Linked DNA regions of Homo sapiens: region 1 is linked to region 2. Evidence: fine-mapped expression QTL. A gene starts in region 2. The other region holds a variant in brackets. All regions are shown on one strand. Distances are from middle to middle.

Region 1 (5,000 bases), 90 kb before region 2:
TCATTTGGAGGTCAGTGGAGAGGTTTGAATTAGAAGCATGTATTTGGAGTAGTAGAGGAAGCATTGTAGAAGAGGTAAAGAGACCTGGGCTTTTTTCTCAGTCTGTTTTTATTTGCAGTAGGATTTTAAAGGAGACATTTAGCTTGCCAGACATCAGTTTTCATGTCTATAAAATAAGGTGGCTAGTATAAGAGGAAGAATTTTTTGAGACTAGGTCTTGCTCTGTCACCCAGACTGGAGTGCAGTGGCATGATCTCAGCTCACTGCAACCTCTGCCTCCTGGGTTCAAGCAATTCTCGTGCCTAAGCCTCCCGAGTAGCTGGGCTTACGGGCACATGCCACCACGCCTGGCTAATTTTTGTATTTTTAGTAGAGATGGGGTTTTTCCATGTTGGCCAGGCTGGTCTCAAACTCCTGACCTTAAGTGGTCCACTTGCCTCGGCCTCCCAAAGTGCTGGGATCTGTGCCCAGACAGAAGAGGAAGAATTTTATAAGATGATAAGAAAAACATTCTGAATAAATACTAGGTTATTTCTCATTTTCTTGCTTTTAATTTTGTTTTTTATTTATTTATTTTATTTTATTTACTTTTTTGAGACAGAGTTTCGCTCTTGTCACCCAGGCTGGAGTGCAGTGGCACAATCTTGACTCGCTGCAGTCTCCACCTCCAGGATTCAAGCGATTCCCCTGCCTCAGTCTCCCAAGCAGCTGGGATTGTAGGTACACACCACCATGCCTGGCTAATTTTTGTGTGTGTGTGTGTATTTTTAGTAGAGATGGGGTTTTACCATGTGGCCAGGCTGGTCTAGAACTCAACCTCAGGTGATCCGCCTGCCTTAGCCTCCCAAAGTGCTGGGATTACAGGCATGAGCCACCGCTCTCGGCCCCCTTGCTTTTAATTTTGAAAGTACACATAACACCTTCTTCTGGTAAAGGTATGTCTCAATGGAGAACTCATAGTGATTAGTCTTTGTTTAACAACTAATGCTTTTAAGGTAACAGTTCTATCTCGTTTCGATGTCTGTCTTTAGAGAAGTAGCTGATTTTCAGCTTTCTGTGGATTCTTTATTGGAAAAAGACAATGACCATTCAAGACCAGATATTCAAGTTCAAGCCAAGAGACTAGCAGAGAAGGTACGTTAGCACTATTATCTCTTTTTGACATTGTAATAAACTTGTTATTAAAAAAAGTACTTTGCAGGCTATCTCAGCCATAATAGTGAATTTAATAGTGTTTCTTTGAGGCATCTTGTGTAATATAATTTAAATTCATTTTAGCCATGTACTATAAGGTTATAATGATTTTTCAGATTAGTTATAAAGCACTCCTCTTGAGCTGACATTGTTCAATTTTTTGATTAACCACTTACAGGAAGACTGAAGTGTTAATTAAATTTACAGATTGAAGCTGGATGGACTTTTGAATTTAGGAGAACAAGCTTGATAAATTAGAGCAGTGAGTTGCAATTTTTAAAATGAGTTTCTGAAAAGATGAACATTGAAATATGAGAAGAAATGATTAGATGTAAATAGAATCATGATTACAGAGAAGAGGTGGTTAGATGATTTAATAAGCCTCTTTCATTTCTAAGTTCTCTGATGGGTTTGATATCTAACAGAGGAATTGAAAGGATTGCAAGGAATTACTAAACATAAATTGTTAGTGTAATTCCCTCAGAAAAGGCAGATAATGTTGGACAAGGTTATTAACATACATCCACAGAGTCAGTGTCTGGGAACTCAAAAGAATTGGAACAATGAAAGTCACTATCATAGAAAAAGATGCTTATTTAAAGGGTGACTATGATAAAGGAGCATTGGTAGCTTAGTAAATATTTATTTGATCAGAAAATCACTCCCAGATATTTACCAGGAATAGAATTATTCAAAATACAGTATTTAGTTCCTTTTCCCCATTTCTTGTAAGTTCTTAAAAATAAAGACTAGTTGCTCTTTAGTGACAGCAGATATCTCTTCAAGTTCCATAGGTTTTTCATGAGATGGCTTCGAACATCTAATAGGTTAAAAAGTGAAGGCATATGCATAGAAGACA[G/A]ACTATCTAAATTACATCTTATCTGTTGGTGCAGGTGCTTTAGCGTAGACCCTGACAGAATGTCATGTTCTGTGGCTCTCATGAAAGCTAGGTGAGATAAAAAGTGTTCATCGTATGTCAGAGTAGGTAGAATATGGGTAGAGTGATTTTTCTTACTTGTTACAAGGTGAATTTGAGGGGAGGGAAAGAGAATGAGGAAGAGAGAGACTGAATACAGAATAGCATGTTAGTTGGGAAAAAAAGAAAATGTGTTTACTTAAATAGAAGTATGGAACTAAAGAGATTGCCTGAGAACTGGGACCCGATATAGGGACCATGAAAGATGACTTACTTGTGTCTTTGTAAGCCAAAAATAGCATTAGAACTACCTATCTCATTAGGCCTATTATATAACATACCTACTTTGTGTGATTTGTTCTTTTCAGCTAAGATGTGATACAGTGGTGAGTGAAATCAGTACTGGTCAAAGGACTGTAAATTTCAAAATAAACAGAGAGCTCTTAACAAAGGTAAGAATAAGTTAATATCCAGCCATTGTGCTTTCATTCTGTCTGCTTCAGCCACAGTGGTCTTCCTCCAGTTTTTAAATTCTTTATGCCTCCTCTGGCCTCAAAACCTTTGCACATACTGATCCATAACTTGGAGAGTACCACCCCAAGTTAACACCTACTCATCCTTTAAATCTTGATATTTCTTTGGCAGTAGCTTTCTGACCCCTTCATTTATATGCTCTCATAGCACTGTATAGTCATATACCACATAATGACATTTCATACACAACGTGTATAGATGATGGTCCCATAAGACAATACCATATTTTTACTGTACCTTTCTGTGTTTAGATATATTTAAGTATACAGACACTATTATGATACAGTTGCATACAATATTCAGTACAGTGACATGCTGTACAGGTTTGTAGCCTAGGAGCAATAGGCTGTAGCATACAGCCTAGGCGTATAGTAGACTGTATCATCTAGGTTTGTATAAGCACTTGGGAGGCTGAGGCAGGAGGATCACTTGAGCCCGGAAGTTCAAGACCAGCCCTGGCAGCATATCTCTACAAAAAAATTTAAAAATTAGCCACACATGATAGTTTGCGCCTGTAGTCCCAACTGCTCTGGAGGCTGAGGTGGGAGGATCGCTTGAGCCTGGGAGTTTGAGGTTGCAATGAGCTGTGATTGTGCTATTGCACTCCAACCTTGGTGACAGAGCGAGACCTTGTCTCAAAATAAAAATTTCAATGGCCATGAATTTTCAAGCTTTATTGCAATTAACAAACTAAAGAATTTTTCTGATTTAAGGATACCCATTAGCTCACTTATTAAAAATATTCCCAAATCCTTCTCAATTGACATTGAAGGGACAAGAGTCAGGGCTTTGAAGTCCAACTACTCTTTCTCACATGGGAATTCTTCCGTATTGCAGCCTTGAGGATCTGAATCTTAGTGAGAATTTGAATAAAGGAGCAAGCGGACTGCTTACAGTTGCCCTGCTCAGTGTCACAGTAAAATCAGATCCTGGAGCAGTGAGCACTCATGTTCAGAAAAAGACTATTGAATGTACCTCTGCTTTGTGTTACAATTTTAATGATAATTCTTCTTTACTGAAAATTTAATGTATTCTACATTTGGCTGTCAACCTAAAAGGAGGAAACTGAGGCAAAATTAATATAAGTAGAGAGTTTACTTGGGCCAGGCTTGAGGATTGCAGCTGAGGAGCACAGATTCAAGTTGCCGTGAATATACCCTTTGATAGGCAGCAGTTACAAGTGGATTTTTAAAGGGAAAGAAGAGGGAGTTTGAGTTGTTAACCAGAATTTACATTAAAATAATGTAAGCTATTGATAGGCTGTATATTTTTCTTTGTGTCACAAATGCCAGTAACATGAAGATAATGTGTGAGGCAGCTAGTTGGGAACAAAATCACATAAAACAATTGCCCCCACCCATAGGAGGAAGAGTTTGTGCATAACTGATGTTTGATATGCATGTCTTTCTGGGCCTGCATACCTCACATAGCTGAGACTACTCTGAGCTATTTTTCTTTTCTCAAGCTTATAGCATCTGTTTTTCTCACGTATTGGATCTCTAGTTTTATAATTTTAACTGTTTTACAGTCCATTTTTTAATAAGTAGGATAATACTCTAAAATAATGATTAAAAGTAAATATATAAATCACTAACATAGTCATTTATAATGAAGTATTATGTACTGTACATAATTGTATGTGCTATACTTTTATACAACTGGCAGTGCAGTAAGTTGGTTTACACCATAAGTTTTAGGTCTCAGATGATGGTCATTTGCATGGTTTTTTTTGAGACGGAGTTTTGCTCTTGTTGCCCAGGCTGGAGTGCAATGGCACGATCTTTGCTTACCGTAACCTCCACCTCCCGGGTTCAAGCGATTCTCCTGCCTCTGCCTCCCCAGGTAGCTGGGATTACAGGCATGCACCACCGCGCCCAGCTAATTTTGTATTTTTAGTTTCTCCATGTTGGTCAGGCTGGTCTTGAACTCCCAGCCTCGGGTAATCCACCCACCTCACCCTCCCAAAGTGCTGGCATTACAGGCGTGAGCCACCGTGCCCTGCCATCATTTGCATATTTAATGGATTTTTCAGATCACATCAAGAAAAAAAATTCGATTCTTGTTAGGACCAACAAAGAATTAATATATCTTTGTTTGAGAAATAACCATAATGACATTGCAAAGAACTGTCACTTTGGTACCAAACTTCTACCTGTCAGTAGCTTGCAGTACTTTCAAGAGAAACTGTAACTTCAAATAATATTTAATTGTTAAAAGGGAAAAAAGAAAGTATGATCTCAACCAAATAGGAAAAATTCAAACAAAACCCTGTTTTCTTAGGGATGCTTCAGAAATACACAATGGATAACATCATTTTATTTCACGCTTTTTAATTTGCCAAATTAAACTTTGCATG
Region 2 (5,535 bases):
TTTAAATGGTTGATAAAAAATGTAATAACATCTTGTGATATGTGAAAATTGCAGGAAATTCAAATTCTAGTGTCCATGAATAGTTTTATTAGAACATAGCCATGCTCATTTGTTTCTAAATTATCCAGGCTACTTTTTTTTCCCTACAACAGCAGATCTGAGTAGTTATGACAAGAGACTATCCAGCCCTTCACAGGAAAAGTTTGCCATCTCATGTCCTAGATTATCAACACTTTCATAAATAAGAGAAGTTAGGGCTGATAAACTAAAAAGTACTTTATTTTAGCTACTGTACAGGTTCCTGATTCCAAAAACAACAAAGTGAATATTTAAACACTAAACCAAATATTGATAGCCTACAAACATATTCTGACTTATAATATTGTCATTAACTTGAAAAAATACCTTTTTGCATAGTGAGTATATGGGAATATATATTATATTCTTGAAAATAACTACTGATCTAAGTGGAAGGGTAATCAAATAAGTTTAGGTATGTGCAAAACAGATTGGGCTTTGACATGGAATACCAGTTTTTAAACGTATTTCAACTTTTAAATACTAAATGTTTTTAAGTACGATTTTCTCTGGCAGTTTAACATCAGACCAAACTATTTCTTGTTCACTCCATTCACAAATTCTCCAGTATAAAACTTCAGTTATTAGCAATTTCAATTATTTCAGGGTAACAGCAAAAGTCCATATGTAATCACTTCAAATTGGGCAAATAATTCAAATCACACCCAATGCCAGTAACTATAAAGCTAGCCCACAACTCAACTGGCAGCCACATCTTAACCCTGCATTGTTCCCTGCTTCTCACGAAATTCTATTAGCTCCCATATAGTGTTTGTGTGGAAATGTCCCCCAAAAGAAACTTACAGTTTAAAATGTTTTTTTTCGGTTATGTTTTACTATAGTTTATGGGGACATTATTTGTAATACTTAAGAACTTAGAAATTCTGTAAGTCCCAGATAAATCCTTTGTGGATATTCGGAAACTATGGAAACTGTAGTTTTGTTAGGATTACAATCAAGGCTCAACAAATATGTATTGGCAATAAGCCTAAACCTTTACATTGTTGCAGCTATTTCAAGTAATGATTTGACTTCTGTAATTTATAAGTTTTCGTTCGGATCAATTTTGCTATCCCCATTCCATTTTAGTTATCAAAACAATTCTATTTCTTTTTCTTTTATTTCCTGTGTTGCTACAAAAAAAGGCTTTTAAGATTGGACTTATTTGAAATGAAACAGAAAGAAGACATAAGAGAAGCATATGCAACTAAAGACAATGCCCCTGGGCAGGGCCTGATGAGAAACATGGACCCCGCAACAGGGAAAATAACTTGAAACCCACGCAAGAAGATATTCCTTATGTATTCGTTCAATATTTATTCAAGGGTGAAGCCAAGTGCTCTATGGAGGAAGGGTGGAGCAAGAATCCGGGTGTTGCCCAACTTCTCCTGGTTAATGCACCACAGTCAAAGAATCCACCTCTGGTCCCAACTTACACACACTGCTCAGCAAAAAGTGGTGCGGAGTCAATTAGACTCGCCCTCCTTAAATGTCAATTAGTCAACAAATACGCCTTCACCCGAATGTGCCATCCCTCAGGAGGAGGGAGGTGGATCTCAGCTTCCACCCCAAATAGCAGCATACAGCATTCTCTATAATTACACACAGCATACAGGTGGGAACTGTTAACGACTGTTATCTTCCTTTCGTTACGATTTCAGTGCTGTTTTGACGCCCCAGTGATGTCTTTAGTGGTTGTTGCATGGCCCAGCCGCCGCATGGGATCTGCGCCCGGAGCCTGCCTTTAAGCCTCTGAGCATCCACAGGGTAGGAGGCGCAGAGGAGACCGGAGCCGCGGGGCCAGGGTGAAGAACTGTCCTGCCTCGCTGGGTAATGCGGTCCAGCCCCGGACCCACGCCCTGGCCTCTCTCCGGGTCCGCCGCAGCCCCGGCCTGTCAGAATTCGGTTCCCACCCACTCCCAGCTAGTGGAGGTCAGTGCGGTCTCTGACTCCGACCTGCCCAGCGCGGAGTCAGCCGCGGAGACTGCAGCCGCAGCGGAAGGCAGGCTGCCCTGACTGCCGGGAGCGGCTCCACGCAAACTCCTGACGCCTCAGCCAGGCCCCAGAGGCACTGGGCAACCAGGGTGCTCCGCTGCCCGACAGGGGCTGACCAGCGCAGATGCTCGCCCGCCGCCGCCCCCCGCGGACTCCCCACTCCCAGCAGACCCAGTTCTCACCTCTCGGGGCAGCCATGGTTCCCCGACAGCCCCCCGCGGAACTGACGCCCGCCCCCTCCGCGCCCCCGCGCAGGACACCGGGGACCGCCCCTTGTGGTCATAGAGACGAAGCCGCTCGGCCTAGAGCGCCTCGCCGGCCTCCCGGTCGGCCACGCACTAAAACTGGGCTCAGGAATCCAAGCTACACCCCAAAATGGGGAGAACGCGGATCGAAGGGAGGCCTTCCCGGCCGCGTCCTAGGTGACAGGTGTGTGAAATTCGGTTGGGGAGGTAGTTCTGTAAACTGCGTCTCCCCGCCAGCTAAGGAAGTTGAGTGAAGGGAGCGTTGCCGTCTGGGAATCGTAGTCCTCACAAAGGCGTGAGTAGGCGGCAAATAAGGATTTGGGTTTAGCCTTGGGGATTCACTCCTGTCAAAGCTGTTAGAGAAGCTCCCAGAACTCGTAAAGTAACAGAAACTACTTGCGGCAACATTTGTAACTTCCACCTGGCTCATTATCTTCCACTGTTACCTTGTGTTCTAGATAAGTTATAATTTATTCTACATATCGTTCAGAAGTCTTGTGCCTGTTCCATATCGTCAGCAGTCATCGGTTGTATTTACCCAGCCAGGCATTCTAACTAATGATCTTCGCACAACAAAACGGCCTTTAAAAAATCAGATGTATCGGCCGGGCGTGGTGGCTCACGCCTGTAATCCCAGCACTTTGGGAAGTCGAGGCAGATGGATCACCTAAGGTCAGGAGTTCGAGACCAGCCTGGCCAATATGGCGAAACCCCGTCTTTACTAAAAATACAAAAAATTAGCCGGGCGTGGTGGCGCGCACCGGTAATCCCAGCTACTCAGGAGGCCGAAGCGGGAGAATCACTTGAACCCGGGAGATTGCAGTGAGCCGAGATTGCGCCCCTGCACTCCAGCCTGGGCGACACAGCGAGACTTCGTCTCAAAAAACAAAAAAAATTAGATATATCAACAGGCATTTTAACCACTATAATCTCCACTTTCACTAGGGGATGTTAATTAGCTATCATAATTGATATTAGAAATAATTCATTGGTGAAATAAATGATGTTCAAGATATGTGGATTGGTTTAAAATAATATGAAAATACCTCAGCACTTACAGGAATAGGGATGCAAGATTCTGAGCTGCCCAGCAGCCCACACCTTCTGCAGCATGTTCTTTCCCCAAAATTGTCCTTTTAGAGGGTTGGTTGTATACCATTGTCTTGTTAAATATACATATAGATATATCTGGTCTGTTAACATTGTTGGAACATTTTGCATGCCTTATTAGCATCATATTAATATTGGGAGGGGCTCCCAGGAGACCAGAGTTGACTTTGTAGAGGCAGACATTTGATTAATCTCATTTTGCAATAGTGTTGGACTTTTCCTCTACCTGGTAGTAAGTGTGCTCACTGGTGCTAATCTTCCCTTATTGTAATTGATACAGTTTCCACTAGTAGAATTATTCAGTTCTCTACTGTGTATGTACTTATGCATACATTTAAACAATATTCATATATGTACGTGAAATTAATTTTAAAAATTAAAAATATTATATCATATAGTCCTTCGTTTTACAGCTACTGCTTTGTATGGTTTATCTTGTCCCATTTTGGACTATCATTATAGTGTCAGCTTACATCAATTAAGTATAATTTCTAAATGCTCAATTTGTTCCAAAAGGCACTTGTAAGCCTGCCTCTGTTTTCAAGTCTGCACCAGCTGTTTTTACTTTTTTTTTTTTTTTGTCTTTTTTTCTTCTTGTAGAGATTGTGGGTGGGGGCGTCTCACTTTGTTGCCCAGGCTAGTTCTCGAACTCCCCACCTAAAACAATCCTCCCACCTCAGCCCCCCAAAGTTCTGGGATTACAGGTGTGAACCACCACACCTGGCCTGCACTAGCTTTTTGAAGCATGTTTTAATTTCTGGCAACAAGAGGTTTTGTTTTTTCCTGTCCTAGGTGGTAGAATCAACTAGGAACTATCATTCCTTCTGGTGAGGAAGCGCATTTTACACACACACACATGCACACACACGCACACGCACACACACACACACACAGAGATCCCAATTAAAGTGGTGGGTCAAATGTTGCTGAGCCATTTTTGTGGCATTTCTGGTTCACATAACATCATGCTGTTGAATCCTACTTTTCTTATACATTTTCATTGCCTCAAAAGACTATTATACTTCACTGGCATCAAACTTAACTAGATTTTCATGCCTCTTTGTCCTAACCCAGTTAGCCCAATACCAACAGGACAAATCTGCCAAACTATAGTCTGACAAAGTTGAGCTTACTGATGCCTTCTGATATAAAGTGGGTATTTGTCCCTGCCCAGATGTGATGTTGAATTGTAATCCTCAATGTTGGAGGTGGGGCCTGGTGGGAGCTCTGGATCATGAGGACAGAACCCTCAAGAATGGCTTGGGCCATCGCCTTGGTGATAAGTGAGCTCTTGCTCTGAGTTCACAGGTGATCTGGTGTTTTAAAAGTCTCTCTCTCTCTTTCTCTCTCTCTCCTGCTCTGGCCATGTGATGTGCCTGCTCCCACTTCGCCTTCCACCATGAGTAAAAGCTACCTGAGGCCTACCCAGAAGCATATGCCAGCACTGTGTTTCCTGTACAGGCTGCAGAATCATGAGCCAATTAAACCTATTTTCTTATGCATTACTCAGGCTCAGGTATTTCTTTATAGCACTGCAAGAACCACCTAAAACACATTCCAATGAGGGAAACTGAACACCAGAGGTATCTCAGGAAACAAAAAAGATAAATTTATAGAATTTTAGGGAAGGATGGGATTAGGTGAAATTTAAAGGAAGCAGTGTTTGATAAACTCAAAGCAGGACTATATGTATCCAATAGGGACTGTAGAACAGTCTCAGGATCCTGTTTCTTGAAAACTACAAAGTTACCATAGATGTGGAATGTTGTATTCAGGAGCCCCTTAATTGAGGCTGCTTCTTTGTATGAAAATGATGTAGATCCCCCCAAGCAAAAGTAGGGTGTTTCATTCTTACTGATGTAATTTCAAGCAGCAAGTTTTCCTAGAGTATATGATTTTAGAGAACAAAGTTTTTCAGTGAATTAGAAAGCAAACACTCAAAGAAGGGCCTTGCTATTATACTTTATAGTGTCAGCATATACTTAGTTATTTCCCATTAACTTTGCAGCAGGGTTTACCTGGGTTTGTTATCCCAGCTCAATTAATGACCAAGCAGCTATTTACAGTCTTACTCTGAACTAATTTTTACTTTCTCACTCTGAATTAT

The links. PIP is the estimated chance that this variant, and not a neighbour inherited with it, causes the effect. A credible set is the group of variants that fine-mapping cannot tell apart.
Region 1: its variant is the best candidate, but not a certain one, in a credible set for the expression of SLC35A1 in lung (TOPMed, PIP 0.55).

What each region holds. Positions count from the first base shown.
Region 1 is chr6:87,560,264-87,565,263 of GRCh38, reverse strand. RARS2 (arginyl-tRNA synthetase 2, mitochondrial) reads left to right here. Exons shown (of 20, transcript NM_020320.5): 3 at 1,032-1,134; 4 at 2,479-2,562. Among named protein-coding and RNA genes, the nearest start is that of RARS2, 27 kb to the left of the region's middle. The variant G/A (reference allele first, on the strand shown) is at 2,054.
Region 2 is chr6:87,469,740-87,475,274 of GRCh38, reverse strand. SLC35A1 (solute carrier family 35 member A1) reads right to left here and starts at 2,301. Exons shown (of 8, transcript NM_006416.5): 1 at 2,256-2,301. The coding sequence starts at 2,271. LOC124901357 (a long non-coding RNA gene) reads left to right here and starts at 2,330. Exons shown (of 2, transcript XR_007059668.1): 1 at 2,330-2,502; 2 at 2,777-3,825. RefSeq lists enhancers at 1,433-1,532, 1,583-1,752, 1,748-2,654 and a silencer at 2,203-2,342.